4 separate regions of the Homo sapiens genome follow, and regions 1, 2 and 4 are each reported to be linked to region 3. The links are microRNA targets in miRTarBase. Many come from high-throughput screens and were not tested one by one. Region 3 holds a microRNA gene; each other region holds the end of a gene's coding sequence.

What was found. The annotated mature microRNA hsa-miR-1233-5p reads AGUGGGAGGCCAGGGCACGGCA and lies in region 3 at 2,503-2,524, shown strand. An mRNA with a match to its seed (bases 2 to 7 or 8) in the 3' UTR can be bound and repressed. Matches are read on the target gene's strand: a 7mer-m8 pairs with bases 2 to 8, a 7mer-A1 pairs with bases 2 to 7 and ends in A, and an 8mer does both.
Region 1: the mRNA of IP6K1 is a reported target of hsa-miR-1233-5p. Seed matches in the 3' UTR shown: 7mer-m8 at 5,585-5,591.
Region 2: miRTarBase lists PSMD11 as a target of hsa-miR-1233-5p. Seed matches in the 3' UTR shown: 7mer-m8 at 1,731-1,737.
Region 4: miRTarBase lists PLXNA1 as a target of hsa-miR-1233-5p. Seed matches in the 3' UTR shown: 7mer-m8 at 5,414-5,420 and 7mer-A1 at 3,580-3,586.

What each region holds. Positions count from the first base shown.
Region 1 is chr3:49,720,815-49,727,925 of GRCh38, forward strand. IP6K1 (inositol hexakisphosphate kinase 1) reads right to left here. Exons shown (of 6, transcript NM_153273.4): 6 at 3,480-6,841. The coding sequence ends at 6,308. RNF123 (ring finger protein 123) reads left to right here. Exons shown (of 39, transcript NM_022064.5): 37 at 1-80; 38 at 206-291; 39 at 371-715. The coding sequence ends at 491. GMPPB (GDP-mannose pyrophosphorylase B) reads right to left here and starts at 3,137. Exons shown (of 9, transcript NM_021971.4): 1 at 2,784-3,137; 2 at 2,578-2,658; 3 at 2,440-2,488; 4 at 2,158-2,300; 5 at 1,782-1,940; 6 at 1,618-1,696; 7 at 1,417-1,544; 8 at 1,151-1,333; 9 at 1-1,069. The coding sequence starts at 2,912. The coding sequence ends at 938. RefSeq lists silencers at 229-406, 3,181-3,630 and an enhancer at 2,441-2,540.
Region 2 is chr17:32,479,986-32,487,098 of GRCh38, forward strand. PSMD11 (proteasome 26S subunit, non-ATPase 11) reads left to right here. Exons shown (of 14, transcript NM_002815.4): 12 at 161-212; 13 at 504-646; 14 at 768-3,334. The coding sequence ends at 646. It overlaps CDK5R1 (cyclin dependent kinase 5 regulatory subunit 1), which reads left to right and starts at 7,008. Exons shown (of 2, transcript NM_003885.3): 1 at 7,008-7,113. RefSeq lists an enhancer at 5,794-6,295 and silencers at 6,368-6,897, 7,008-7,113.
Region 3 is chr15:34,377,537-34,384,649 of GRCh38, reverse strand. It overlaps MIR1233-1 (microRNA 1233-1), which reads left to right and starts at 2,500; the gene lies at 2,500-2,581. GOLGA8A (golgin A8 family member A) reads left to right here. Exons shown (of 25, transcript NM_181077.5): 17 at 603-689; 18 at 797-904; 19 at 1,122-1,209; 20 at 1,597-1,853; 21 at 2,121-2,264; 22 at 2,399-2,499; 23 at 2,582-2,682; 24 at 2,794-2,949; 25 at 3,037-5,582. The coding sequence ends at 3,239.
Region 4 is chr3:127,032,877-127,039,989 of GRCh38, reverse strand. PLXNA1 (plexin A1) reads right to left here. Exons shown (of 32, transcript NM_032242.4): 32 at 2,601-6,068. The coding sequence ends at 5,973. Among named protein-coding and RNA genes, the nearest start is that of PLXNA1, 53 kb to the right of the region's middle.

The DNA of each region.
Region 1 (7,111 bases), not on the chromosome of region 3:
GTGCCGATGAGCTGGCCCAAGTGGAACAGATGCTGGCGCACCTGACCTCTGCATCTGCCCAGGCAGCAGCTGCCTCCCTGGTGAGTGGGAACACGGTGCACAGGTCCATGCCACTTGAATATGTGTGCACTCCTACACAGGCACAACGGACATCCACATAGCCAGGCATCCAACTCCAGCCCACCCTTCACTCTCCTCCCTGCAGCCCACCAGTGAGGAGGACCTCTGCCCCATCTGCTATGCCCACCCCATCTCTGCTGTGTTCCAGCCCTGTGGCCACAAGTCCTGCAAGTAAGTGGGCCCCACAGCTTGGTGGTGGGGAGAGCAGTAGGTACATGCAGGGCAGTCCTCATCCCCTCCCCTGTTGTAGAGCCTGTATCAACCAGCACCTGATGAACAACAAGGACTGCTTCTTCTGCAAAACCACCATCGTGTCTGTAGAGGACTGGGAGAAGGGAGCCAATACGAGTACTACCTCCTCAGCTGCCTAGCCCTCACAGCCTGTGCCATCCTGGAACCTCCACCTTTGAACCCAGAGCCAGGCTGGGCCCTATTTATGAGCTCCCTTTGCCCTTCTCCTGTATCCCACACCACCACATCCAACCTCCTTGCCTGCCTGTATCCTCATTGGTGGGAGCCCAGCCATGGCCCTAATTGTGCCTGAGCTTGACTTTCAGTCAGGGCCACAGTGAGCATTAAATTATTATTCCATACAGCCCTGGCCCTGGCCCTTCTTGAGGGAGTGGGGTTTGTGGGGTGTGCCCAGCAGGGATCCTGCCAGATGATGTCCACATGAGAAGGCAGGTGTCCAACAGCTTCAGCTTCACCCAGTGCCCCCCAGACAAATAATGACAAGTCCAGGGTCTTCTGATGTGTCAGGCCAGCACTCCCCTTGCTGATGGGAAAACCGGGGCTCGGCCAGCCCCACTGCATCCCCTCACATGATGATACGAGGCTCTGGCACTGACTCGCCAATAGACTTGTGGGGCAGCACGCTGGCTCCGTTGAGGTAGAGCTCATCATTAACTATGACGTCCTCACCCAGCACTGTCACGTTCTCCATGCGTACCTCCAGGAGAGGATAGGCCTTGTCAGGGAGGCAGGCACACTCCCCGCCCCTCTCCCCACCCAGCCCAGCCCACAGGCTTACCCACTGACCCACGCGGCAGCGCCAGCCCACAATGCAGGACTCAAGCCAGGAATGGGAACGGATCCGGGCATCCCGCAGCACCGTGCACCGCCGGATACACACACCATCTTCGACCACCACGCCAGGTCCCAGGCTCACATTGGGGCCAATGCTGCAGTTCTGGCCGATGCGGGCACTTGGGTCCTGAGAGCGGTGGGAAAAATACAAGTGGGCCACTTGTCTCCCAAGACTGAGGGGGTTAATGATGGGCTGGGCAAGGGCCTCACCACCAGCACGTTGCCCACAATGCCAGGGCCTGAGCACAGCCGCTCAGGCTGCTTCTGCCTCAGTGACTGCAGGAAGAGGCACATGCCAGTGAGGAAGTCCTTGGGCTGCCCAATGTCCATCCAGAAGCCTGTAGGGAGGGATGCATCAGGGGCCTCAGCCCAGCCACAGACCACCCCCACCCTGTGGCCTCCCTGCCTCACCCTGTAACTCCATGGCATATAGCTGCCCCTCCTTGGCCATAATGGGGAAGACCTCCTTCTCAATGGACGTAGGCTGCAGCTGTGGGAGTGGGCAGCTTGTGAGCAGGGTCATGGCGGTGATGGCCTGCCCCACCCCAGCCCACCAACAGCTGTCTCCTACACACCTGGATGCGCTGCAGCACTGCAGGGCTCAGGATGTACATGCCTGCGTTGATCTTATTGGACACAAACACCTGTGGCTTCTCCACGAACCGGTGAATGCGGCCTGTGTCAGCCTCACACACCACCACACCGTACTTGGAGGGTTCCTCCACCTTGGTCACCTGAATGCAAGGAAGGGGACCTCGGACCTAGTCCAGTGTTCCTAAGCCTTGATACACATGCCGTTCCAGATCTCAAGAGACTCTGCCCCAAGTGCTTAAAGATACATACTGCACAGCTCTGTATCCATAACATCCGAAGGCAGATGAAGGCTAGGGGGCATGGGAGGCTGGGCATGGAGGGTGAAAGTGTCAAGAGAGAGAAGACCTGGCGCCTTACCAGGATGGAGCCCTCCTGGCCATGGTGCCGGTGGAACTGCACCATGGCTTGGAAGGGGAAATCGCAGATCACGTCACTGTTGAGGACGAAGAAAGGGTCTGCAGTCTCAGAGAGTAGGTCACGGGCCAGCGCCAGGGGCCCAGCTGGGGGAAGGGGACAGGTCACCACCTTGCTGGAGGTCTGAGTCCCTGGATTCAGGCTCAGCAGGCCCACTCCAGGCTGGGTCTTACCCTTTTCCTGGCCTTAAACCCTCCCCCAAGGGACCTTTCTGCCTCTACTGACCTGTCCCCAAAGGCTCCTCTTCATGGGACATGGAGATTCGGATTCCCAGCTGGAAGGAAGAGGCCCCCCCAGTCAGGTTCTACCAGGATGGGAAGTTGGGCGGGGACCGAGAATAAGGGCCAAGAGTCTGTGCCTCACCCTCTGCTCCTGTGCCTTCATTTCCTTCTCCAGCACCTGCGACATGTAGCTCACGGCCAGGATCACGTGGTCCACGCCTGCCTGTCAGAACGCAGGCCGACGGGCGGGCTCAGTCAGAAGGTACGGGAGCCCCTGACCCCTAGTCGCTGGCCATCCCTAGTCCCGCCAGATCCGAACGCGACTCTGATCCCGACCCAGGGTCTTACCGCGGCTAGCGCCTCCACTTGGTGCAGCAAGATGGGCTTATTGCAGAAGTCCACCAGTGGCTTCGGGGTGCTCAGCGTCAGCGGCCGTAGCCGCGTCCCATAGCCCCCCACTAAGATCAGTGCCTTCATCGCGCCTGCGGACGTTGAGGGGGTGTCCCGGGCTCTGAGGTGCCTGCAGCCCGCCTGGCCGGTCCCTGCCGCGCACTCCCAACGCCGTGCCCGGCCCCGCGCCCTTCACCAACCCGCCTGACAGACTCTGGCTCCACCTCGTCCGCCCGGTCGCCCTGACGCCGGATCCAGGGCCGCCACAACACAGAACGCGACACCGGGTAGACGGCTGCTGGCCCCGAACTCAGGCCGGACCCGGCGCGGGCAGTGACGCGACCACCGCGGGCCAATCGGCTGCCGCGTACGTGGCACGGCCGCCGGCGTCGGAACGTTGGAGCGCAGCGCTGCGACAGACGTAGCCAATGAGCGCCCGAGTACGCCGGGCTGCCATGGAGACCCGGGCCGGGACCCGCGGGTCAGCTGGCCATTGGCGGATCCAAAGGCGGAACTGGCGCCAAGGGCGAGGCCTTGTTCCCTGCTTCGCCGCGGTCCAGCAGCCGCCGGCCCCGCCCCACGGCCCCGGCCTCGCCCCGAGGGTGACCAGGGAAGGCTCCCGGGCCACGGGATTTTCACAAAGACAGACTCGCCTCCGTTTCTAGCGGCTTTATTTTTGACATACACGACCTCAGACACAAGCGGGGCGGGCAGCGCTAGGTGTACAGAAAGGAGCGGGCTCGGACCGAGCACCCCCTCCCCCGCACGCAAGGTCCAAAGCAAACGCAACTGCGGCGGGAGCCACCGGCGCAGGCCTCGGGCGGTGGAGACAGGCTTAGCTTCCAGGAAAGAGCAGCAGAGAGCGATTCCCAGAACGCGAGGGCTTACAGTTCCCCGAGAAGCAAAAGAACCAGGTCCTTCCCAGGGTTCTCCATTATTTTTTCCTCATTAAAATATATTTTAAGTCAGCACAAACATAACCAAATTGTACAGCTTTAAAGTTCAAAGCAGTCTGCATCTAGGGAACGTGCATGTGGTCAGGAGTGAGCGCGTGAGCAGCGGCTACGTAACTAGCACAGGTGCCAGGCCCCTTGATGGGAATCCCCATGCTCACTGCACAGGCCCAGAGAGGGAGGGGTGGGGTCCCTGGCAAGTTGCTACACTGGTCCCCTTCCTCTTTTAAGCACCACCCGTCCCACCCCACCCTCAGGGGCTGGTGTCAGCTTGGCCCAGGGAAGCACTATAGAGAGGGCTCACCTGAGCACCCCAACCCATGATCCCATGTTGCACTTTGTTCCCAAGTTGGGGCTAAGAAGGCTGGGCCTGGCAGGGACAGGGCTCTCTGGCATGGGGCAGGGAGAAAGCAGTGGCAGACAGTATGCACACACACTTGCCCACTACCATTAAATAACAGGGCTGGGTCTCCAGGTGTCCAAAGTGCTGAAAAGAGGGGCCCTGCTCTAAGGGAGCAGCAGCAAATCCCAGGCCTTCCCACTCTTTGTAGTGCCAGGAAAATACTGAATGTAAGTGGGTGCAGCTTTGCTCGCTGTGAGGAGCAGCAGAATGCGGCAGCCTCTCCTCCCAGAATCGAGGAATCTGGGAGGCACAGGACATCCCCAAAAGGTCCCAAACAGTTCCAGACCCTATGTCTTACCCTCCACCCTACCAGGGAATGACTATCTACACTAATGAAGGGCTACTGCCCCCATGGCTGAAGCCACAGAATGGTACAGGAGAGAAGACTGTAATTTGTGACCAGAAACAGGCAAGCTGTCCCTCCCAGCCCCAAAGAATGGGAACCTGCCCACCAGTGGCACCAGGGCTGGGGGCTAGGAGAGATGGCATCCATCAAGGAGCCCTTAAGAGGCTGCATCTTTAAGGACCAGGAAATGAGTCCATCAGTTACCAAGGCTTCTCACAGCTGGCAGGCTTACCTTTAAAGCCAAACAGGCACTTGCCTAAAGTGACAATGAACAGTGTGGCCCTAGGCTCAAAGGAGAGGGTGCTAACCTTGGCAATGGCTGAAATCGGTGTCACCTCCTGGCCATCTGTTAGAAGCAGCAGATCTGTGCCATTAAGGGCTGGCAGCCAAAATGACTAAAACCATGAGAAAGGAAGGGTCACTCCTCAAGCCCTCACTGCCCCACTCTAAGGGTTGAGGGCCATATTCTAGGCCCACAGAAATGGTGCTGGGTCAACAGGGAAACACCAATTTATTCTGCTATCAGGTCTTTATAAAAAGGCAACACCTGTGGAGGAAGGGCATGGGGCAAAAGCTCACCTCAGAAGTGGAAGTGTTCTGCTGAGGAAAGCATGAAGGAATGAGTATATACTAATGAACAAGGCTACACCCCAGGGGAAGGATCCCAAGGGACGGGCTGGCAGCCGGACACATGGACAAACTGATGGACCCAGGACTGATCAGACAAAGCTCTCATTAGCAGAATGTGGGCACCTGCACCCAGGGCCCATACCACGTCCCTGTGAGCAAAAAAGCTTAAAGTTCTCCCTCCAGGCCCAGGGCCAAGAGCGCCTCACAAAGGGCTGCTGCCTTGAACTTGGCCTGGGGAAATGAGACCCTGAGCGGACCACAGCCCTTGAGCCCTGGGAGGAGCAGCCCATCCAGCAGCAGCACAGCTGCCGAAACTTGAGGAAGAAGACTCCCACCCATAGCACAAGAACTGCAAATACTGTCTGGGCCAGAGCCACCAGAGGCCCTGAGGCCTGCTAGGACACCGACTATCCCCCACTTCAGTGGGGTGGGAGGGAGTGGCCTTCTTAGGCAAGGGAACTTGGTGAGAGAGGCTGTTTCAGGAATAGGACAGGTGCCAACCTGTCACGTGCCAACAGGTGCCTGGGGAACCCAGGCGCCGCCCTCTGCCATAAGTTGGCCTCAGCCCAGCTTCATTAATCTAGCCCCATGCTAAGGTCAGACCGAAGGATGGGTCCAGCTTTGTGCAGTCAGCCCTGTGGTGCCCTGAGGGCACCTATTAAAGAGCTAGCTGACACCCACAGCATAAGACTGGAAAGCCCCCAAGAAATGGGCACCCAGAGCCCTCTACTTCTGGGGAACAAGGGAAGAGTGGGCGTGGAGGGGCCCTGCACCAGCCCAGGGCTTTACCTTACAATCAGCAGGGCCCTGCAGCCACAGATCTCAAAGATCTAGACAAGAGAAACCAATGTCCAAGGGCACCCTGTCCCTGCTGCCAAGCCCACCAGGGGCACCTCTTCCTTCCTAAGGCAGCCTGGACACACCAGTCAGAGCCACAAAGCTGAGGAGCCTGGCTGAGAGGGCGTGTGGTCTGCCCTCCTTCACTTTATATATATGGATTCCAGGCTACAGCTAAAAACATTTCTTTTAGTTTACACCAAAGAGAAATATAACCCTTTAAAAGCAAGTCTGTGTGTCCTCACGGCAAGTTCAGAACAATGGTCCCTGCCTGCAGTGGAGAGGAAGGGGTTCTGGGGGCCCAGAACAGGGCCTACTGGTTCTCGTCCCGCATCTGTTCCATGATGCTGATGAGGTTCTCCAGGCCAAACACGTAGCCTCTGTCTGGCCCATCATGCACGGTGGGGTCATCCCGGAAGCCCTTGAATGTGCTGTGTGCAAAGTCAATCATGCGGACATCCACCTTGGGCTGAGAGGAGGGACCCGCCTCGGGGCTGGTGTTGCTGGGGCTGGTGCTGGGGCCACAGGATGACGCCACCTCAGGGAGCACCATGTCCAGGTGCTTGAGACGCATCTCAGACCGGCGGTCCAGGCAGGACTCAGCCCGGCACTCCTTGCCATCATAGATGACAAGCAGGGAACTGGAGTAGAAGCGGTAAGAGGCCTGCCGCTCCAGCACAGCTTTCAGGCCCCGCAGTTTGCTCAGGATAGGCTCAAACAGGTCACGTCGCAGGTCCAGGCCATTGTGCAGATATTGATAGAGGGCATTGCGGAAGCCTTCAATGGAGAGCCCACGGCCATAGTACTTGTTCCTGCAGAGGTAATGCCCTGTGTCCAGCTGGTACACCTGAAACCCCAGGAGGCAGACAGGGTGAGTGCCAGGGAAGTCTGAAGAGCTCACAGTGCCCTGGGCAAACACTGTCTGGAAGGGACTTTGACCAACCTGAGCTTTTCTGCTCACCTATCTAAGTGGAACCAGGCAGGCCACATTCACCCTGGGTTTTCCCATTGCAGAACCAAGAGAAAGCAATACCAGGCCTATGGGTTCCCTGCCCCCAGCTTTGGAGCCCTCCTCCAACATCGGAACATCTTGTTGACAGGCAAGAGTCTTATTTGT
Region 2 (7,113 bases), not on the chromosome of region 3:
TCTCAGTGGGGAATGGGCAGTGTGGACTAGAGTAGGAGTTGCATTGTTGCTATTTTGTTTTCAGTCCATTTGGCCTAAGACCCCTCCAACAAAGCTACTGTGTCAGGGTGATCTCTGACTAGTGGATACTGGTCCCTTTAATCATGTGCTTTGATTTTAGGCCGACGTGGAAAGGAAATTATCACAGATGATTCTTGACAAGAAATTTCATGGTAAGTAACAGTCACACAGGCAAGGGGGCTGGTGGTGGTGATGAGATGGTTGAAGAAGTTTATTTTCAAAGAAGATGTTCTATTTGTTTCCCCCGATGGTTCACCCTGGGGTCCTGGCCCCTCTTCCCTGTGATGAGAATGTGTAATAAGCATGTGTACATGGAATAGGGAGATGAATTCTATTTCCCTTCTTTTCTGGACACAGTGAGTCAACTAGGGAGTGGGCTGCTTCACAAACACTTTTGTGTCTAACCTCATCTTTTACCTGGGTTGCCCTTGTGTTTCTTGCAGGGATTTTGGACCAGGGGGAGGGTGTCCTGATTATTTTCGATGAACCCCCAGTAGATAAAACTTACGAAGCTGCTCTGGAAACAATTCAGAACATGAGCAAAGTAGTGGATTCCCTCTACAACAAAGCCAAGAAACTGACATAGGTGAGTGCTGGCTTCAGGACCCCAGGGCTGGGCAGCTCTGTCTTCTGCGTGTCGAGACTGAAAACCTCCTCCTGGTGTCCTCATGGCTTCCTGATTGACACTGCTCTGTCTTCTCTTGCAGAGTTGGATCTGTAGCGGTCCTTTGGAGAGTGTGTGTGGCGGGAGAGTGAAACCTTGGGGGAAAATGCTAGGAGATTCTTTTTTCTTTTTGTTCTACTTTTCGCTCGGAAAGTTTTTAAATCCTCATTTGGTGCATCTGTATTCCAGCCAATAGGTGTGCCAGTTTTCATGTAATCTTTACTGGCCCAACTTGGGAGTGGGGAAATTGCTTAAAAAAAAAGAAAAAGAAAAAAAAAAAGATTATTCTAAATAAAAGGAAAAAGGCTTACACTACCTAAAGCTGTGCTCTCTGCCTCCTGGGAGAGGGCCGCAAAGCCAGGCACCCCGCCAACCACTGGGGGTCCTAATCCACCTGCTGGGCATCACCTCTCCTCCTCCTCAGAATTGGGTGTTTGCTGACCATCAAAAGCAATGACTTTTTATTCTGTTTGTACTGAACCAAAACAAACAACTGTGTATAGACTGCTGTTTTCTTTTTTATTTGAAATGAGGCATTTTGGTGTTCTTTCCCCTACCATACGGCCTGTCTGCCCTTCCCTCCCCACATTGGCTCCAGCAGAGTAGCCGAAGGTCCTGCCGCCGCCGCCACCACCACCACCACTGCAGCAACAACAGCAGCAGCAGCAGCAGCGCCTGCATAGCTCCACTCTGACCTGTGAAGGAATGGGGATGAGGCCAGGAGCTAGTGTCTACCACGGCCACACAGGGAGCAGTGTGGGCCCTTAGCCCCCAAGGGGCCTGCTATGCATGTGGCTTTTTTTTTTTTTTTAAACACAGTAAACTAGATTAGTCGTCAGTGTTTTAATTGCCCCTCTTCTCCTCTCCTGCATTCCTCTCCTCTCTTCTTTCCTCTCTGTCCCTTCTCTTTCCCCTCTCAACCAGGAGACCATCATGTCTCTCTGCCTTCCTCCTCTCCCCTCCAGGGGAGTCAGGCTGTCTGTGAAAGCCATGAGCTTCTCTCCCTCTCCCACTCCTCCTCTCCTACTTTCAGATGGATTTATTCCTTTTTTAAACAATGAACATCGGAAATGAGACTGTGGGGTGTGGTTTCTCTCTCTCTTTTTTTTTTAATTTTCTTTGTTGGGTTTTTGAGCAACCTCATGTCCCCTTCCCAGGGAGCTTTTTAATTTACCTCTTAGAACTCAAGTGGATGGGAAGTAGAGCACTATGTGTCAGTATGCTTTGTTTTCTGACACGATTACACAGCGAGGCTTTAATGCCATTTGGGTAGGTGAGCTTCTGCACTTCTGTTGTGCTGAACTGTATTTTCTTCTCTCATCTCCTCTTTGTCTTTTTCTCTTTTCCTCTCCTTCCTGCCTTCTTCTGCTGGCCTCCTTTTCTCTTTCTTTACCTTCCTTGGATTATCCTTCCAGGTTTTCATAATAAATTTATATTTTGTAAAAGGATTTTGTTGTACCAGGTTTTGCATCCTCACTGAATCTGACTGGCTTTTATTTTCCTCTCCAAAATCAGGTTTTTGTTCTCAACATCTTTCCCCATCATGTCTAGTCACTGTTTTGGTTTTGGCACCATCAGTATCAAATGTACAAACGGTTCTTGCTAACCAACACCAGGTATATCTGATGTTCAGATGAGTTCCAATAAAAATAATTTTTTTTTTTTTCAAAAGGTGTCTTTTTCTTGAGTGCTGGAGGGCTTCCAAGCAAGTCCAGACAGCTCTGTGTGGCCCCACACTAGTCTAGCTCTCATCTGGCCAAAGCTGTTATCTCATTTGTGTAATGGGAGTCCTTAAGGTAAATTTGGGGTCCAAACTTGGAGGGCTTTGGGGGCAAGAAAGTTGGTGTGTGAGTTCTGAGGTTGGAAATGAGTTCAGGTGTCTTCTTCCAGGGCAGCATGGTCCAGTGAGCACATGTAAGTTTGGGCAGTAGATCCTCTGAGCCTACTTTCTCTTCTACTCAGTGAGGATGCTGCTTCCTTGGCAGGTGATTGTGATGTGAAGCTTAGTAAGTCATAGACGTGCAGGTGTCTGGAGAGTCCTGACATGCAGTTGTGGTTTCGTTTCCTTTTGGAATCTTCAAAGGCAGCGATTTTCATATTGCCTCACACCCTGGCGGGGGCGGGGGGCTCTGGGACCACTGGGGGACCTGCTAAATCCTCTTCAGTCTGAGCAGTTCAGCCATTGTCAGTTTTAGTATTGTGTCTCTGTATTTCACTTGCAGAAAGAGCTTTGCTTCTATAAAGGACTTTAAAAAGTACTCCAAAGAGATCTAGTTTTGGAGTAGAGGGGAGATGTTTTCTCAAACTTAGGGCAGTCCTGAGATGCTCAGGCAGTAGCCCTTTTCTCAGTTCCCTTTGCGGGTCTTGGTCAGATGATGCCCTCTAGACCCGTGCTGTCCAATATGTAGCCGCTAGCCATGTGCAGCTGTCAGGCCCTTGCAACGTGGCTGGTTCGAGCTGTGATACACTGCAAGTGTAAACACAAACCAGACTTCGAAGGCTTAGTATGATAACAAAAGAAAAGGAGTGTAAAATATGTCAATAACTTTTTTATATATGTGTTGAAATATTTTGGGTATTGGGTTAAATAAAATATATTATTAAAATTCACCTGTTTCCCTTTTACTTGTGTAATGTGGCTGCTAGAAAATATAAAGTTACCTATGTGGCTTCTATCTGGACAGCGCAGCTCTAGACCTCCAGGACCAGCAGTTGTGTCACTGCCTCCTCTCCCAGGCCTCTCATGACCTGAGTCCAGGCACAGCTGGGAAGGTCAGCTGGCCGGTGGGCTGGCCTGGGCCCGGCTCCCTCACCTCCCTTCTGGGCTCCAGCCTTCATGGTGCCAGGACTTTCTTGTGTGTTAATGAGACTCTACTGGAGTTGGGAGCAGAGGCTCTGGTCCCCTGCTGTGTGCTAGTTATGTAATCTGTGCTGCTCAGAAGGGCCACTAGATGCTGCTCTGTGATCCCTGAAAGAACAAAGCCGACTTCCTCAGGAGTAAGGGCTCAGGCCTGCTCTATTTGGAACCCTTCTTGGAAGCTGTAGCTGGCCCCCGCCTTGACCTCCCTCCCTCGGGATGCTATGGGAAGTGGGGCATGCAGGAAGAGTGGACTCTCCGGCAGTCCACGGGCAGCCCAGCCCAGCAGGGAAGCTAACAAGCAGGCTGGCCCTTCAGGCAGCTAGAGATAGGCAATAGGCTAAGTAGGCTGATTGATGGGGGTGGGATTTGGAAATCTTCCCTGCAGTTCTATGATGAAGGCAGCTAGGAAGAAAACAGCTCTGCCTCATTCAACTGGGTCTGCCTTCTGGGTCCTTGGTTCTGCCATTTCTGGCAGTTGACTGTCCTTTCTTCCTTGCTTCCAGTTGGAGCAGTGATAGGAACTGGGGGTGGGGAGGTGGTGGTGGGTTGAATGAAAAGAGGAGCTCTGTGGTGTCTGAAAACCAGCATAACAGGCATGGCCTGGGTGATAGGAGCTCCTGGAGACCCCTCCCTTAGTCGCAGCAGCAAGTGGGCTGCCAGTGCCATCCCATTCCTGCTGTGCTGCAACTGTGACTTTGCCTTGGGCAAGTGTGAGGAGGCTGGTGTTCTGCCGAGAGCTCTGTTTGAAGGTGCTAGGGAAAGGCTGGCTGGACAAAGGTGAGAAGACACAGGGTATGGCCTGGCTTGAAAAGGCCCATGCAGAGGCATGCTGCTGCAGAGTGGGAAGCAGGGTAGTGGGGTGAGCTTGGTCCGCCTCCCCGTGAATTGGAATAGCTAGAATTGAGATTGAGAGTTAAAGGTAACAGAGTGGGCCCAGGTTTTTCTAGGGGGTGGATTTTTCTTTTTTTAGCCGAAGTGTCACTCTGTCACCCAGGCTGGAATGCAGTGGCACAATCTCAGCTCACTGCAACCTCTGCCTCCCGGGTTCAAGCTATTCTCCTGCCTCAGCCTCCCGAGTAGCTGGGATTATAGGCACCCGCCACCACGCCCAGCTAATTTTTTTAGTAGAGACGGGTTTCACCATGTTGGCCAGGCTGGTCTCAAACTCCTGACCTCAGGTGATCCGCCCGCCTTGGCCTCTGAAACTGCTGGACACAGTGTGGCCATCACGCCTGGCCGGGGTGGATTATAGGCTTCAAAATTTGGACATATTTTGGGAAGTGGAAAACATTTAACCTTGGCTCAACACTAGAATCTGAAGGGGGGCACAGAGCCAACTCAGGAGCTAGAGGCTCCAAGTAAGGGCTGAGGAAAAGAGGCTGGGGTTCGGCTTTCCTTTGAGAAGGAAAAGGGACACTTGGTCAGGGTCTCGAAGCAAATCGTTTCTTCTGGCTTTTTTTTTTTTTTTTTTTTTTTTTTTGAGATGGAGTTTCGCTCTTGTTGCCCAGGCTGGAGTGCAATGGTGCAATCTCGGCCCACTGCAACCTCTGTCTCCCAGGTTCAAGCGATTCTCCTGCCTCAGCCTCCTGAGTAGCTGAGATTACAGGTGCCTGCCACCACGCCTGGCTAATTTTTTTTGTATTTTTAGTAGAGACGGGGTTTCACCATGTTGGCTAGGCTGGTCTCGAACTCCTGACCTCAGGTGATCCACCCGCCTCGGCCTCCCAAAATACTGGGATTACAAGCATGAGCCACTGCGTCGGCCTCTTCTGGCTTCTTACTGTTACATGCAGGAGGGTTGAGGACAGCTCCATTTGAAGAGCAGGTAGGCTTGTACACTGAGGAACATTCACAGGGAGGGGCGCACTGAGCTGGGGGCCTGCCTTCCTCTTCTGAGTTCCCATAACAGCTGTTGTGGATGTTCTGAAAGGCTGTGGACAAAGTAGCCCTCTGGGTACAGAGCAATGCATTTTCCACTGTATGCCTTGCCCCCCAAGGTTCCTAAAGCCTGGAATTCCTATTGACAGAAATCTGAGTGGCACATAAACAAAACCCAGCACTTTCTGCCTTGATTGCACCATTTTGAATGATGCCAGATTCCCTTTCTGTTCCCCCTAGGACAGTTGACAGGGCTGGTGAAAGCCTAGTCGGCTGGAGTGGTCAGGTAACTGGGTGGCATCCTCTCCTCTGGAGAGCCACTCCCTCATCTCTAGGTCCAGAGATAATCTGGATTAAGACAGGGCTTAAGTTTCCTGTTTCCCAGGTTTGTGGTCAGTTTTGACTCGATCTCCAGAAACAAGGTAAAATAGTAAATGAACAACAGCCTTTGTGAAGGATCTGGATTCACATCTGACAGGAACAGCTTTCAGAAACAGAATTTTACTCAATTTCGCTAGCATCAAGTTCTCAAATTATACATACTTAGAATTGAAAACGTTTAAGAGGGTCAGAAAGCTGGCCGGAGGGGCAGTTGCTTCAGCTTTAATATGACAAATAAGAGGGCGAGTGGGAACTTAGAGGTCATATTTGTGACGGGCTCAGGCTTGGCTACGGGCCACGCTTCTCTGGCTTGGATCTCTGAGGCCCACTTCGGCCGCGGTCATCTACCCATGATGAGGGAACGGAGGCCCCGGAGGGGTGGCCAGAACCGATTGGACTGTCCACTCGAGGTGCGCGTGGCACTCGGGAGGCCTCAGTAAAGGCGTCGCCTCTCCCCGCCCAGGGCCTTCTTCCCCGCGCTCCCTGGCTGCTTTCCACAGGGACGGGGATGTCAGGTGGAAGGAGGGAGCTCCGGACCCTGGCCTCGGCGGAGGGCTCCTCACCAGGCCAGGGCGGCAGCCTCAGAGAGGGCGGGCCGCGCGCTGCCAGGGCAGGGACTCGGCCGAGAGTGCCCCCGCGGCCGGCAGCTGCGGGCGCCGCGGCGGGAACAAAGGCAGCACGTGTCTGGGCGGGACGCGGGCGGGGTCGGCCCTCGGCTCCGCCCTGCTCGGCGCCCGCCCCGCGTCGGCAGAGTTGGGTTGCGCGGGCGCCGAGGACTCTCCGGCGGCCGGGCTGCTGTTGGGCGGCGGCGCGGAGCGGGCGGCGAGCTGTGCGGGAGGGGCGGCCCCGAGGGGCGGGGCGGGCCGACGCCGCGTGTCCCGCCGCAGCCGCGGAGTCCGGCTCCTAGATGGGGCCCGGCGCGTAGAGGTGCCTCCCGCTCGTTGCCGCGTCCTACCCGCACCGTGCGCGGCTCGAGCTGAGGACACCAACGGCCGCGACTCCCCGGCGAGACCAGGCCGGAGCGTGGACGGCGCGCGCGCCCCGCGAGGGAGGGCGCTGAGGCGCGCGCCGGAAGCGGGAGCGGGAGCGGGAGCGCGGCGGCGGCGGCGAAGGTGCGGGCGGCCGAGCGGGGGGCGGGGCTGCGGTGCCTGCAGAACCTTGGACAGAAGCTCCCTAGCTGCCGCCGCCGCCGCCGCCGCCGTCGCCGCCGCCGAGCGCGAGCCCAGCCGATCCCCGCCGAGCGCCCCCGAGCGCCGCCGAGCGCCGGGAC
Region 3 (7,113 bases):
ATATACATAAAACATGTCTGCAAGTGTTCGTAAACAACTCAGGAGAGAGCAGCAGGGTGGCTGGGAGATACTTCCCTTTGATACCTTCCGAGTTTTGGACTATGTGAATGTATCATCTTTTCAAAAAGTGAACAAAAGATTAATTTTCCCCTTCCTAACCGTGCCCCCACCCCCAGCAGAAAAATGGGCTTAGAGAATCTGATAGACCTGGGTGTTCAAATCCTAGCTCTGCCTAAGTGATCTTAGGCAAGCACTTAACCTCAAACACTCCATGTTTTTTCATCTACCCAAGAGAGGGCATCATAGTAACTGTCTCCTCTGGTGGTTGCGAGGATTAAATGGGATTGCTAGCAAGGTACCTGCTGAAGCACTCCACAAAGGTTCAAACAGTGGGAGTAATAACAATAGCAATATTATCTGATCTCTCTCCTTGTCCCTTCCAACTTCACTGAGTTTTTTTCAAAACCAGACCACGGGCTTGGAAATGCCTTGATCTTTACTGACCGAGTTGTATATTGAGCCTAGCCCTAGCCCTTTTAAGGGGCACTGTGTGGAATGGCCCAGGCTCCCCAGATCGAAACTTCTCACTCTTCACCATCCAGTTCTCGAGCCGCAGTAAAGCACTTCTCAAGCGGCAGTTAGAGCAGTCCATACGGGAGCAGATACTGCTGAAAGGACACGTGACACAGGTGAGGTTTTGCAGAGGGAGGGATGTGGAAGGAAGATGACCCCAGGTGGCCAGGAGCAGGTGAGGACCAGTGACGGCCCTTCCTAACTTGTGTGGCCATTCTTGCAGTTGAAGGAGTCGCTTAAAGAAGTCCAGCTGGAGAGAGATCAATATGCTGAACAAATAAAAGGAGAGAGGGCCCAGTGGCAGCAGAGGATGAGGAAAATGTCGCAGGAGGTGAGATCTGACCCTTCAGCCTCCCGCCCCACCCCCCCCCCACCAACAACTTAAGATAGGTCACTGGATCTTTCTGGGCCTCTTTAAAATGGGAATAGTGCAGCCAGAGGTGGTCCTGGGTCTGGGCTTTGTGGAGGTGGGGGCAGAGAGGGAGATGGGAGCCTGTCCAGCCACCAGCCCCTCTCTCCAGGGCCCTTTCCCCCTGTGCTTTGGGCAGGTTTGCACATTGAAGGAGGAGAAGAAGCATGATACGCATCGGGTAGAGGAGCTGGAGAGGAGCTTGTCCAGACTCAAAAACCAGATGGGTAAGATGGGGCTGGCATGACCTGGGAGCAGGACTGGCATCAGAGGGCTGTGGGGGTGGCTTAGAGTGCCCCAGGGAGGTGGGTGGATGGCAGGGCTTTGAGGCAGAGGGAAAGAGGTCTGTGCCAGGAGACAAGTCTTGTCATCTCCCTGAGCCTCAGTGTCCCCATGAGCAAAGAGGGCCCGTTGTCAGCCACCCGCAGTGCTCTCTATCTGAAAGTGGTTTGGAAGACTGGCTACCATCCGGGTGCGAGGGATCGTTAGCAGTGAAGCCAAGTTTGGGAGCCTGAGAGGAGCTGTGCGCCAACAGGAGGGTGTTTTGTTGTTTTTTCTGTTTTGATTTTTGTTTTGAGAATCCAGAGGCCCTTATGATCTGCTTCCTTTCTCAGCTGAGCCACTGCCCCCGGATGCCCCAGCAGTGTCCTCTGAGGTGGAGCTGCAAGACCTGAGGAAGGAGCTGGAGAGAGTGGCAGGAGAGCTCCAGGCTCAGGTGGAAAACAATCAGTGCATCAGTCTCCTGAACCGTGGGCAAAAGGAGAGGCTTCGCGAGCAGGAGGAGAGGCTTCAGGAGCAGCAGGAGAGGCTTCGGGAACGGGAGAAGAGGCTTCAGCAGCTGGCCGAGCCACAGAGCGACTTGGAGGAGCTGGTGGGTTGCCCCACCTGGGGAGCCTGCCCTCCTCCCTAGCCCTCCAGGCCTTTGTTTCCCCACCTGTAAAATGGGGCAGTGTAGCCCTCACATGAAATATTACTTCCAAAGGCACCTGTGAGCCAGAGCTTTGCTCTGGTGGCTGTGGGAGAGAGGAGAGTATTTTTCTAACTTGGCTCCACCCTTCCCGGTGCCATGGGAGGCAGACACCAAGTTCTGGGGTCTCCAGCTGCAGTGGGTGGCTGCTGATTGCTTCTCTCTGTCCAGAAGCACGAGAACAAGAGCGCACTGCAGTTGGAGCAGCAAGTAAAGGAGCTGCAGGAGAAGCTGGGCCAGGTGATGGAGACGCTCACCTCGGCCGAGAAGGAGCCAGAGGCAGCAGTCCCAGCCTCAGGGACTGGGGGCGAGTCTGTGAGTGGGGAGACCCTCCGGGCCCTGCAGGAAGTCATGGAGAAGCTGGAGGGGAGTGAGTCCTAGCATGGGCCAAGAAGGGCAGGGCTGGGGCAGGTCGCTGCTGAGATGTGACCCCATTATTTTGGCTCCAGAGCGGCCTTATGGACCTCCTGGAGGAGAAGGCGGACCTGAGGGAGCATGTGGAGAAACTGGAACTTGGATTCATCCAGTACCGGAGAGAGAGATGCCATCAGTGAGTGGGAGGCCAGGGCACGGCAGGGGGAGCTGCAGGGCTATGGGAGGGGCCCCAGCGTCTGAGCCCTGTCCTCCCGCAGGAAAGTACATCGCCTTCTAACAGAGCCAGGGGACAGTGCCAAAGATGCGTCACCGGGAGGAGGCCATCATCAGGCTGGCCCAGGACAAGGAGGAGAGGAAGGTAGGGTGTGCAACATCCCTGTGGGGGTGGGGGTGGGGTGGGGGTGTGGGTGGGGTGGGCATGAGGGTGGGCGCCAGCAGCGGCCTGACAGCTGAGCACCCGTCCCTTCAGGTGAAGCTGCTGGAGCTGCAGGAGATGGTGTTGCGGCTTGTGGCAGCTACAGCGAGGGGCACGGCAAATTCCTGGCCGCTGCCCGGAACCCTGCTGCTGAACCCAGTCCAGGAGCCCCAGCCCCCCAGGAGCTCGGGGCTGCCGACAAGCATGGTGGTGAGTAGAGCCCCCAGGCGGGGTGAGCAGGCAGGAGCGGGGGGCGGCTAGCACTCCACTCAGATCCCCGCCTCCCTCTCTCCAAAGATCTTTGTGAGGCGAGCCTCACCAACAGCGTGGAGCCTGCACAAGGAGAAGCCAGGGAGGGTTCTTCCCAGGACAACCCTACTGCACAGCCAGTCGTGCAGCTCCTTGGTGAGATGCAGGACCACCAGGAGCACCCAGGCTTGGGCAGCAACTGCTGTGTGCCATGCTTTTGCTGGGCTTGGCTGCCGAGAAGAAGGAGATAAACACCACCATCATCAAAGAGCTGCTCAAGAAATTTTTAAAAACGAAACAAAGTTATGGGGTTAATCTCCTACACAATTCATTTACTTCATTTGAATGTTAGAGCTACTCATGATTATTTGTGTTTCTAATTTATAGTTTAAGTTTATTTGTAAAAAGTTAAAAGAGAGTGGGTCTCTGTGGCTCTCACTGATGTTCACTCTGGCATCCTTCAGCATTTTTCTTTTTTCATTTCATAATTGTAGGTCATTAGCATGCATATCGAGTTTGCCCTTACGTGGTGGGAGTTCAAACACACAAAGACCCACTCTTTGCACAAAACTGTTCTCGCTGGTTTGGAATAGGCTCCCGTGCTTTTCTAATGTTATTGCAGCATGGATGTCCATTACAGAATTCAGATAAAATTTGCTAATGTTCTGCTATGATGTTTGATCTCATCTTAATCACAGTGAGCTCTTCTATAGCTCAATATGCGGTTTGCCCTCAAGTGTGCACTGTTTATTACTTTGTAATATGCCACTGTGAGTACTGACATTTAGAGCTGTTTAAAGGCCGAGAACTGGAAACAGCCTTTCCTCCATTTTCTGTGTATTGGTGATGGGAGTGATAACCTTTTGGGGGAGCTTTCTAAATCTCACAGAAGAGGAAAGTGGCCTGCTCTGGCAGGTATGTGCAGGATACAGTGTGTTTCATCTGTTCCGGTGCCAAGAATGAGCAGTGTACTGTGGCAGTTCCCTTTGGATTTGTATGTGCTCTGGGCTCATGAAGATATTGCATCGTGAGCTGCAGCAGTTGCACTCTTTTTCAGTGACCTAAAAAGGGCTTATTTCCGAGGAATGAAAGGCTGCCATCATTGGCTGTGGGTGTGAAAAACCTTTCCTAGCTTAGAGCATTTGTATCTACAATACATTTTAAAGTCAGAGTTCGTGTTCCCTGTTTTAATCACATGACTACCTGTCCCAGTACACGAAAGGGCGCTGGTTGGCATTCTTCTTAATGTATTTAGTGAAGATCATAAGAAATCCTTTAAGAGTTTAAATGTCTCTGAAACAGGCATACAGGCTCTAGTCAAGAATGAATTAGAGTGAAGGAAAGCTGTGTGACACCTGGCATTCCTCTCTGTTCATGGAGCTTCTTTGAGGCTTGAAGTTTGATTTTACTATCTAGACCTCTCTGGCTAATACCTATTCTTCAACCACCTCGGTTACTCTGACATAGGAATTTACTTCTTTTCCTTGAGTGGAAAACACTTTAGAAAGTAATAACAAACATTATTATAAACTAATATATGTGAGAGTACTTAGTTGAAACAAAAAGGAATTTTAGTAGACAGTATTATATTATCTTTGAAAATCAAGGAGAAGTTTATGCAACTTAAAATGTTTACACACTGTGGTGCAATCTACTGTTTGTGAATGTCTGTATTATCAGGAAACATGTCTATACGATCGCAGAGTTGTATTTCCTCACAAACTTCTTTACGAAGAGTGAAATACGTTTTTGTACCTCTCATTTTCAGTCAGGGACATACTTTGTGCAATATTTCTGTGATTGTGCCTATGCATGATGAATGAATGCATTTCAATCATACATTGCCTAAATCATAACTTGATGATGCTTGGGAAAGAATCAACAGTTAAAACTTCATGAAGTTCTAATGTCTGTGTTCCAAAACACATCACATTATTAGGTTGTAGGGAGATATGTAGGTGTGCTCCCTGGGGTGGGGAGTTTTCTAGTTACTAGACCATCTCCATTTTTAGCACTTGGCAGCCTCATGATCCTTTTATAAATGTGAGATTAACAGGAGAGCAGCAATACGATTTTGCCAATGGAATAACAGATTTGCCGGCATTCACTGAAAGAGGGCAGATATTGGGTCCTTGTAACTTCAACTGACTCTTCCAAATTGTATGAATTTATCAATGTATTACACAAATCCAGTTTCAGAATGATAAAAAATGTTAGACCAAATAATGCGGCTAATTAACAGTCGTATGATTTCTAGCCCATGGGTTTAAAACTGTATCTTAAAGAGTCATTTTAAAATAATATAAATATTAAAAAATGTAACTGCTATCTTAATGTTCTGAAATAAAACATTTTAAAATATAAATCCTGTAGTTTAAAAGGAAGAAATGGTGGGAAGGAAAAGTAGAGAAAGAAATGCCAATTCCAGGCCAAAGCGTTATTTGCCAAGTTTTCTTAGAATGAATTTTACCAATGTATGAGTTCTTGTTAACAGAATGTGTAACGGAAATACTGAAAGACTTTTGCTTAAAGTGGCATTATTGACTGCTGATGTGATGCTACTGTAATGCAATAAATTTTTAAATTGTTGCAAAGTGCTGTTTTTGCCTTAAAATTTTATTTTGCGTGTCTTGAAAACTATAGTATTAAAAGTATTGATATTGTGCAAATACTGGGCATGCTTGGCATGAGATAATCTGTTTCATTGTTACAAAAATGTAGTATAACTATGCAAGTGTTTATTGAAAGAACACAACATAAAAAAGGTATGGGATTAAAAAAGTTTTGGGGTGAAAAAGTTATCGGATAAAAATGTAAAAAAGTTGTGGCAAAAAGTAGAAAAAAGTTTTCTGAAAAGTTATCATGGAGCACGGTGGCTCAAGCCTGTAATCCCAGCACTTTGGGAGGCCGAGGTGGGCAGATCACCTGAGGTCAGGAGTTCGAGACCAGCCTGGCCAACAGAGTGAAACTCCGTCTCTACTAAAAATACAAAAATTAGCTGGGTGTGGTGGTGGGTGCCTGTAATTCCAGCTACTCAGGAGGCCGAGGCAGGAGAATTGCTTGAACCTGGGAGGTGGAGGTTGCAATGAGTCAAGAGTGCCACTGCACTCCAGCCTGGGTGACAAAAGCAAAAACTCCGTCTCAAAAAAGAAAAAAAAAAGTAAAGGAGTAAAGAATGGCTACTCCAAAGACAAAGCAGCGGCATCAGCTGCTCAACTGATTATACTTAGTTACTTCTTGATTATATGCTAAAAAGAAAAGTGGGGTACAATGATCTTCCAACCAGGAGTTTCAACATGTGGTCTCTGGGCAAGATGAAACAGCAGACAGTTGGCTCTGAGTAACAGAAAAGATAGAAAAGAGAAAGGAGAAAAGGGGAGAAAAGCATTGTCTGTGGCAGGGTACATAGCTCCGGGAGGCCAGAGAAAGACCCACCCATTGCAGCGACGCTGAATCAAAAGTTCAGGCACCTGCTTTTCAGTAATGAAGGGAGCTCTTCCAACAGTCCCATCAGCTCTCATCTTTCCCACTTTAGGGAGAAAAATGCTCCCACATCTGGTGATCCTGTACATGCCTAATCCTGTCACCCACAGCCATCAGCAAACAGTGCAAGGCAGATTAATCCAAAGAGAATAGCAGATAACATCCCATAATTCCAAATCCATTTTTAACCAAGAGGGACTTTACTGAGAGGGACCTCTAACCTGTAACCCCCTGAATCTTAGGAAGGGCTCTAACCTTCCTAAGTTGGGCCTCTAACCCAAGTTTGGTCAAGTGTCCTTGCCTTTTATTAAGGAGGCCTTTAACTCTGTCTTAGTAGGGACTCTAACCCTCCTAAGTTGGGCCTCTAACCCAATTCCATCCTTTACCCACGTTAAATGTACCCCTCCTCTTACTCAAAGTCGGCCAATTGGTATTGCTGTTTTCTTTGGGTCAGAGGTTTCCTCAATATTGTCCCTTCGTGGTTCAACCAGAAGACATTACCAGAAAGGGATCCTGATCCAGACCCCAAGAGAGGGCTTTTGGATCTCACCCAAGCAAGAATTCAGGGTGAGTCCATAGACTAAAGTGAAAGCAAGTTTATTAAGAAAGTAAAGGAATGAAGAATGGCTACTCCATAGACAG
Region 4 (7,113 bases), not on the chromosome of region 3:
CAGACCCCACGCTGGGCAGAGTGCGTGAGTCTCCCAGCCATGGGGGCAGACTCAAGGGGCTGACGGCATCTACAAGGCGGCTACAGGGGAAATGCTCCTGAGAACATGCTTTCCTCAAAGTTCCCGAGGCCCCAGGGCATTGCTCACTGCCAGCTGCTCACGCCCCTCTGCTCTGTGTCCAGACTCTGGGTATCAGGCCCTGGTGTTGTCCTCAAGGAGTCTCCAGCATGGAGACCACTAGAGGAGTGCTGCAGCATGAAGTAGAGAGTCTGAGTTTGAATCCTGGTCCCACCATGGGTAACGGTGTGTCCTTGAGGGTAGTGACTTTACCTCTCTGCTCCCAGGTTCTCCCCTCTACAATGGGGCTGGTCCTGGTACTGACTTGCAGCCCGGCAGCCTTGTATGCTGCAGAAACCACTCCCCAGCATCCGTGTCCCATTCCCCAAAGGTCTATGGTGCACCTGCCTATGTGCCCAGTGCAGGCTGGCTGGAGGCTCTGCTCCAGGACTAGAGGCTCAGCCTGGATATGACCCAAGTCACTTCCACCGACAACTCCATGACTGTTGTCCTCAGAAAGAACACATCTGCCCCCAAAGCTCCACCATCAGGGCTGATGGCTCTCCAGGAAGGCCCCAAAGGGGTGCCACGGGCCACGGGCCCTGGGGATACCTGCAGGAGCCTCTTGGTCTCCAGCCTCCTCTGGCCTTGTCCCGCGACTGCCAGACGCGCGAATCAGAGCCCACCCTCCTCGCTCCCCAAGGCACAGCACCTCCTGCACCTCCCTGCACAGAGCTGACCTGGCCTCTTCCATTGCTCTGGACACAGGGAATGCTCTCTCCGATGTCACCTCAGCTGGCTCCTTGTTTCTCAAGCCTCGATTCCTCCATCCCTCCTCAGGCCTTCCCTGCCCACTTGGCCAGGTGGGCACCCTCCCATGCCACCAGTTTTCTTCAGGGCAAGACACCATCTATAGTCACTGTATCAGGTTTTAGCCTGGCCTGTTACTTTTTATTTCTGCTCAGAGCCTGTGTTTGCTCTTGAGCTGTGGCTGCTCTGGGGTCCAGGTGGGAAGTCTGAAGTCACCTCTGGATCTGCTCTGGGTGGAGGGTGCCTCCATCCCACCCAGGCCCACAGGCTGGCCTCGCCCTTGCTCTGCAGCAAGCCCATCCAGGTGCCCTGCTCAGAGCCACCAGCATTAATAGCTGATGGTTTAATACCCTCAGGAGCCAGCGCACTCAAGCAGCAATCAGAAGGCCCCATCACCGCTGCTGTGTAATTGCGCCCGATCACTCGCACAGCGAGCGCTGATTGCGGCTCAGAGATGGCTCAGCTTCCAGGCTGATGGGCTGGAGCCCTTGGAGGCCTAATGAGGGTAATTGAGGATGGGCTGATTGTGCCGGAAAAAAGCTGAAGGGGACTGAGCCATGAGAACAGGCTGCGTCACACCCTAAACGGGACCACATTTGCTAAATTTGTTTCCGACACAATTTCGTGGTGATTACACTGATTTCTCTTGAGTTACTGAGCCTGGCACAGAGCTTGTGCTTGCAGCCCCACTGTCAAGATGCGCCTGTTTGAGAGTGGGAGGTATTGTTGATGACTTATGGGCCACTGTCAGCCCTGGGAACGAGTTCATGGAGAGGCTGGTGGGAGACAGGTGGGAGCTTGGGGGCGGTGGGGAGGGCCTGGGGTCCCAAGGGCCTACGTTTGGGCGGGCTGCTGCTTACCACCATGTGGCTGGGACACATTGTGCAACCTCTGTGTGCCTCAATTCCTCAGCTGCAGGTGCAGCTGCCCCTAACCTCCCAGGGTTGCCGGGAAGTCCCAGTGAGTTCACTTACAGGCAGTGCTCAGACGGTCCAGGTTGGGGTCTGCCTGGAGGCGCAGCTGCAGAGCAGGTGCCCAGGGCCCTTGGGGATGTGTCACACCTGACCCTGCACCCACCCTCTGCGGCAGGAGCAGCCACCCCTGTTGAGCCATGGATGAAATGAGCCCAGGGACGGGGCCACTGACCAAAGCCATGCACTGGCAGAAGCTGCATCCACACCTCCATCATTAGTATCTGTACACATTTTCATGAGATGAAGCAGCATAGCCTGTCTCTGCTGGAAAGACCAACATTTCTCAAACCCGGTTCCTTGGCTGCGAGTCTGGGAAACACAATTCCAGCCTTGGCTACTGAAGGCAGGGGGCCCAGGACTGCAGCCTCAGCTCCCCCAGGCTGTCGCTCATGGGCCCCTCGGGGTCAGAATCTGATTTTAGTTAACAAGGCACCCAGGAATTCCTGCCTCACGGCATGGGCTGGAAGCCACTGCTCTGAGCTAGGGGTCACGGGAGAATCGCCTGGGAAGCATCTAAAAGTGACCACCGCTCAGACCCCTGAAGCTCCAAGGCTCCAGTGGGGGTCAGGCACTGGTGTTTTAGTCTCCGCCAAGGGCTCCAATGTGTCACCTGGGCTGAGCGCACCCAACTCACAGAGTGTGGCCATCTGTCCTGGGTGTGGCTGAGTCTCCCAGGGAGATATGCTTCCGTGTTTGGGATGTGGCTGCACTCCTGCGGCCGCCCCTGCTTCCCAGCAAGGAAAACCTGGAGCCAAGAGCTTTTAGCAAAAATGTTTAATCTCTCCTTAATGTGTGTGTTTATTTACAAGTACTAAATCTGAAGAACAGTAAAATAGGAAATAGCCGTATATGTACACATCTGAGGGCCGGGCCCACAGTCAGCGGTGCTGCTTCTGCAAAGAGCCCGGCTGAGGGTGCCCGCCCGGACCGTCCGAGGGATCGCTCTTCTTCTGGGAGGGGGTTCTGCGGTGTTAAAGGACAGCTAATTGTGGGCTTTGTCTTAAAAATATCTCTCTCTCTAAATATATCTATTCTAGCTGTGTAGCACCAACGTGAGCCACTGAATCCAGACAGGGAGAAAGCCAGGGCGGAGGCTCTCAGCAAGGCCGAGCCGAGATGGCACGCCGCTCCGGGCTCTCTCCCGGACTCGACGCTGCAGGTCGTGGGGCCCCCAGCCCCTCAGGCCAAGGGGCCAGTGGTCCTGGGGCTGGGGAGCACAGGGGAAGCTCGAGGTATATCAAGAGGCCAGGCTCCCAGGCCGAGGCGTGAGCTTTTCCAGCACTCCTGAGCCAGGCGCGGGGAGAGGGAGGACACGGAGCAGGGTAGGAGGTGCTGCAGGAAGCAAGTGGCGGCAGCAGCACGCCAGGTGGGTGCCAGTTTCACAGCACATGTGCCGCAGCCCTGGCTCCCTGCAGACACAGGGCCCATGGGAGCCGCTCACCGCTGCTGGGCACAGAACGGCCTCCAACTGCAGCTCCTACCAGGGCCTCCAGCCCCAGGCCAGAGCTCCCAGGTGCTGCACAGTTAGGAGCACAGTGGGAACCAGTGACAAGTAGGGACTGGGGCCTAACTCCACGACCTGGCAGAGGGAGGTACGGAGTAGCTCGGAGACTGCTGTCCCAGTAGACAGCACAGGTAGTCGGCTTGATCCTTGCGCATGTAAACAGATACTGCTAAAGTGCTTGCGCCTAGACACAGCCATGTGCTCTGTGGTGGCCACGCCCCAGCCACACGCCCATGTGGGAACTGCTTCATGAGGCCTGTGGTGCACCCCCTTCATCACCACTGCCGTCCCCACCACCCGCCCATGCTACTCACATGGACAAGGGCAGCCTGGCAGGGCAGAGCAGAGCACAAGGCCTAAGGAGAGTGGGGGTTGGAACTGGATTCTGAAGGTGATGCAGGAGCCCCTACCTAACCCGTGAGGAACTGGAAGAACCAGGGACTTCAACCTGAAGCCAGCATCCAGGGAAGACTTTGGGGGAAACTGAGGTTCCCACCCCACCATAGCCAGGAAACATCAGAAGGGAGGTGGAGGCGCACCCAGGAACAGGAATCCCAGCCAATGCTAGGGGCTACTGAAAAAAACAGCCCAGCCACTGTAATATGGACTGGCCTCAGCTCTGGCCCCCAAGACTGCCCAGGGAGTAAGCCCACCCCCTCAGTGGGCTGGGGGCAGGGGCTGGCCCAGGCCTGAGCTGGGTGTGGCAGCAGCAGAAGGCCCCAGCCCTGGCACAGTGCCCACGGGGCCAAGGAGCTCCCTGAGTCAGCAGTCACTGACTCCACACCGACCCGCGTTCAGGGAAGAGGCGGGTCTCTGTGGCGTCATCTGGCTCACGCTACTCAGCTGGGGCGGACTGCAAGACTGGCACACCCCATGGGGCCGAGTCCTCTCCTTGGGCCTGGCCAAGGACATGGGGCTGAGTCTGGCCACAGTTAGCTGTCCCTTAATGTCCATGGGATCTTCGGTACCATCAAAAAAGTGACCTTGAAAAGGGGATGGACCGCTTGTTTGCTTTTACAAGTGACTGATTAATTAAAAAACATAAAAAAGGGTCTAACAACCTCTAGTATTCAACACTTGCAGTTTTAAAAAGATCAACTCAGACTAAACGCTAGCACAATCATGCATGCCCCGTGGTGCCGCGGCACCCCAGAGGCTCTCAGGGTCAGCAGGAAGTCCTTTCCTTGTCATGTCAAACCAAAACAGCGGCCCGCAGGTCGGGGGGCACAGGCTTCAGGGCTGCTCCACTCCAGGGAGGCTCCGGCCACTTTCTCCACAACCATTTGGCATTGCTTTCCCACTGCCTTCATTTTCTTGTTCAAATCGTCTTTAAAATTCTTCTTCAGTTAACTGTACAGTACCCCACTGGGGCTGGAGCCTGAGGCTAGAGCCACATATATATATATGCATATATATACATGTACAGCTTTCTTTTAAGAATGCATTCTCTCTTGCTGAGGGCAAGGGTGGACACCGCTGGCCTCCAGTCCCTCTGGTCACTGCCCGTCACTCATGGCCCAGATAGATCCAGGCCACTGCGGGCCAGAGGAGCCCTGCCACAGACCTCAAGGCCCAAGCAGAGTGCAGCAGAATTTTTTCCCCTAAACACAAAAACAGTCCCCAGATGTCCCACTGCTCTGGAGGGGCCAGGACACTGCTGAGATGCCACACTGGAAGCCGCTGGGGCAGGGACAGAGAGAGTGGAGAGAGAGGAGTGCTCAGGGGCCGCCCTCAGGGGCTCCAGGGTGGGGAGCTCAGCCTACCCTTGAAGACAGCTGCCAGGGCAGCCTGTGTAGGACGCGGAGGGGAATAAATAACGGGAACGTGCTCTCTGCGACCCGGGGCCCCTGGCCCAGTGGCTCCCAGAGGCACAGCCCTGAGGACGGAGAGGGGCTGCCCGGTCCGTCTGGAAGCCACCCAGGAGTCTGAGCAGCCTGGCCCACAGCCCCTCCATAGGAGGGAGCAGAGCCTCTCTGGGGCGAGGTGGATGTGGTGCTCCGGCCTCGGCCGCGCAGAGCACGCGGTGAATCTGAGGATGGCAGCGGTGCAGCGGGCATGGGTGCTGGAGGTGGGAGTCGGTGGCAACGGGCCCAGACCGACTTGAGCTCCTCTTGCCCGGCTACGGGCTTTTTGCCTCTTTCTCCAGCTGCCAACCGGGCCCCGGGACCCTCAGACTCTGCCGCCTGGGGGCAGCTTGGAAAGCTGGGAATGCTGACACCCCCAGCCTCTTGTCCTGGTCTCAAGGGGACAGCCCAAGCTGGCTACCCCTCCCCCTGGAGGGCCCTGGCCTCACCCCTCAGCCCCTCAGAGGTCAGCCCTTCTCCCATGAAGGCCACTGGGCAGCTCTTGCCAGGCAATGAAGGTCCTTGGCCAGCCTGAGCACCCAGTGCTGTCCCGGCCCCTGAGCAAGCAGCTGTGTGCGCAGCTGTGGTGTGGCAGGTACCATCACCTCCACACAGGAAGAGCCGGGACCCGACCGGGTGAGGCAGGGGAGGGAGGGCCGGGCAGTCGCTGCACTGCGGCGGCCCGAGCACCACCGGACACTCCACACGCATGCGGTGAGGGCTGTCCCGGTCCCTGCTCAGCTGTCCTCACGCTGCATCATGCTGGATGATCACAGCTGGGGCTCAGCTGCTCAGGGCCATCGTGTCCACCACCTGCTCCAGCTTGCTCCGCAGCCGCTGCCGCCGCGCCTGCTCATCCTTCTCCAGGGCTGCCAGGATCTGCAGGGCCAGGAGAACTGTCAGCATGCCGGGCCACCAGCCTCCATGCACTCAGCAGGCCCAGGGCAGATGCCTCCAGAGTAGGTGCCAGAGGTTCAACCCCATCTACCCCTGGCCAAAGGACCTTGGTTGTGAGCCTGGACCCTCCAGGACCCCAATATGGAGAATGAGCCCTGCCCCTGTCATCATCCTACTCTCACCCCCTAAAACAGCAGGCTCTGATCCCTTGGCTGCCTGGCCATGCTGCTGACATGTCCCCACCCAGTCCTCACACCCTGGGGTTTCTGTGCCCCTTTAAAGCAGAGCTCCCCAGAGAGCCTCAGCTCCCCTTTCCCTGGTGAGCCCCAGGACCCCAGGCTTTTGTCCCCACTCCCCACCCTAATACATGCAGTCTCTGGCTGCTCCTCTGCTCCCCTGGGGCACCTGCCTGAGGACAGCCCTCTGCCTCCTGTCTGCCTCCTGTGGCACCCTGGGGAAGGTTCCTTGCCTCTGCTGCACCTGCCCTGGCCTCCCCAGGGTGGCTCTGGTTCACTCCCGTGGCCTTCTTAGCCCTCAGAGCCTTGGCACAGGCCGAGACTGTCCTGCCCTCTGGCCCCGTGCTCCCATCCTGTGCGGCCCAGGAGCCAGTTCTCCTTCCTGGATACCTCCTGGACCCCGTCCCCAGGTCCATGTACGTGGCCTCACTCCAAGTCAGCAGAAAAGATACTGAAAGGAAAGCTCTGCCAAGAGCCTATGCCCAGCCCTGGAGATGCTGGCCCAGACTAGAAAACCCTGAAATGAGCCCCTCAGGGAAGTTGCTCACCACCCACACACCCTCTGCCTCAGGAAGAAGCTGCCATCCCATCTTCCCCACCCCTGACCCCACATGGCTGCACACAGTGACTCCACCACGGCCTTCTCTGCTCGGCCTGGCAGGCTCCCTCCTGGCCCCAAGGAACCAGGTGGCCAGAGGGTGCAGAGGAGTGAAGGTGGTCAGTGGCAGCCCAGAGATTCAGGGAGGAGTGGCAGGGCGGGGCAGAGCAGGTGACTCTGGCAGGGGCCGGCA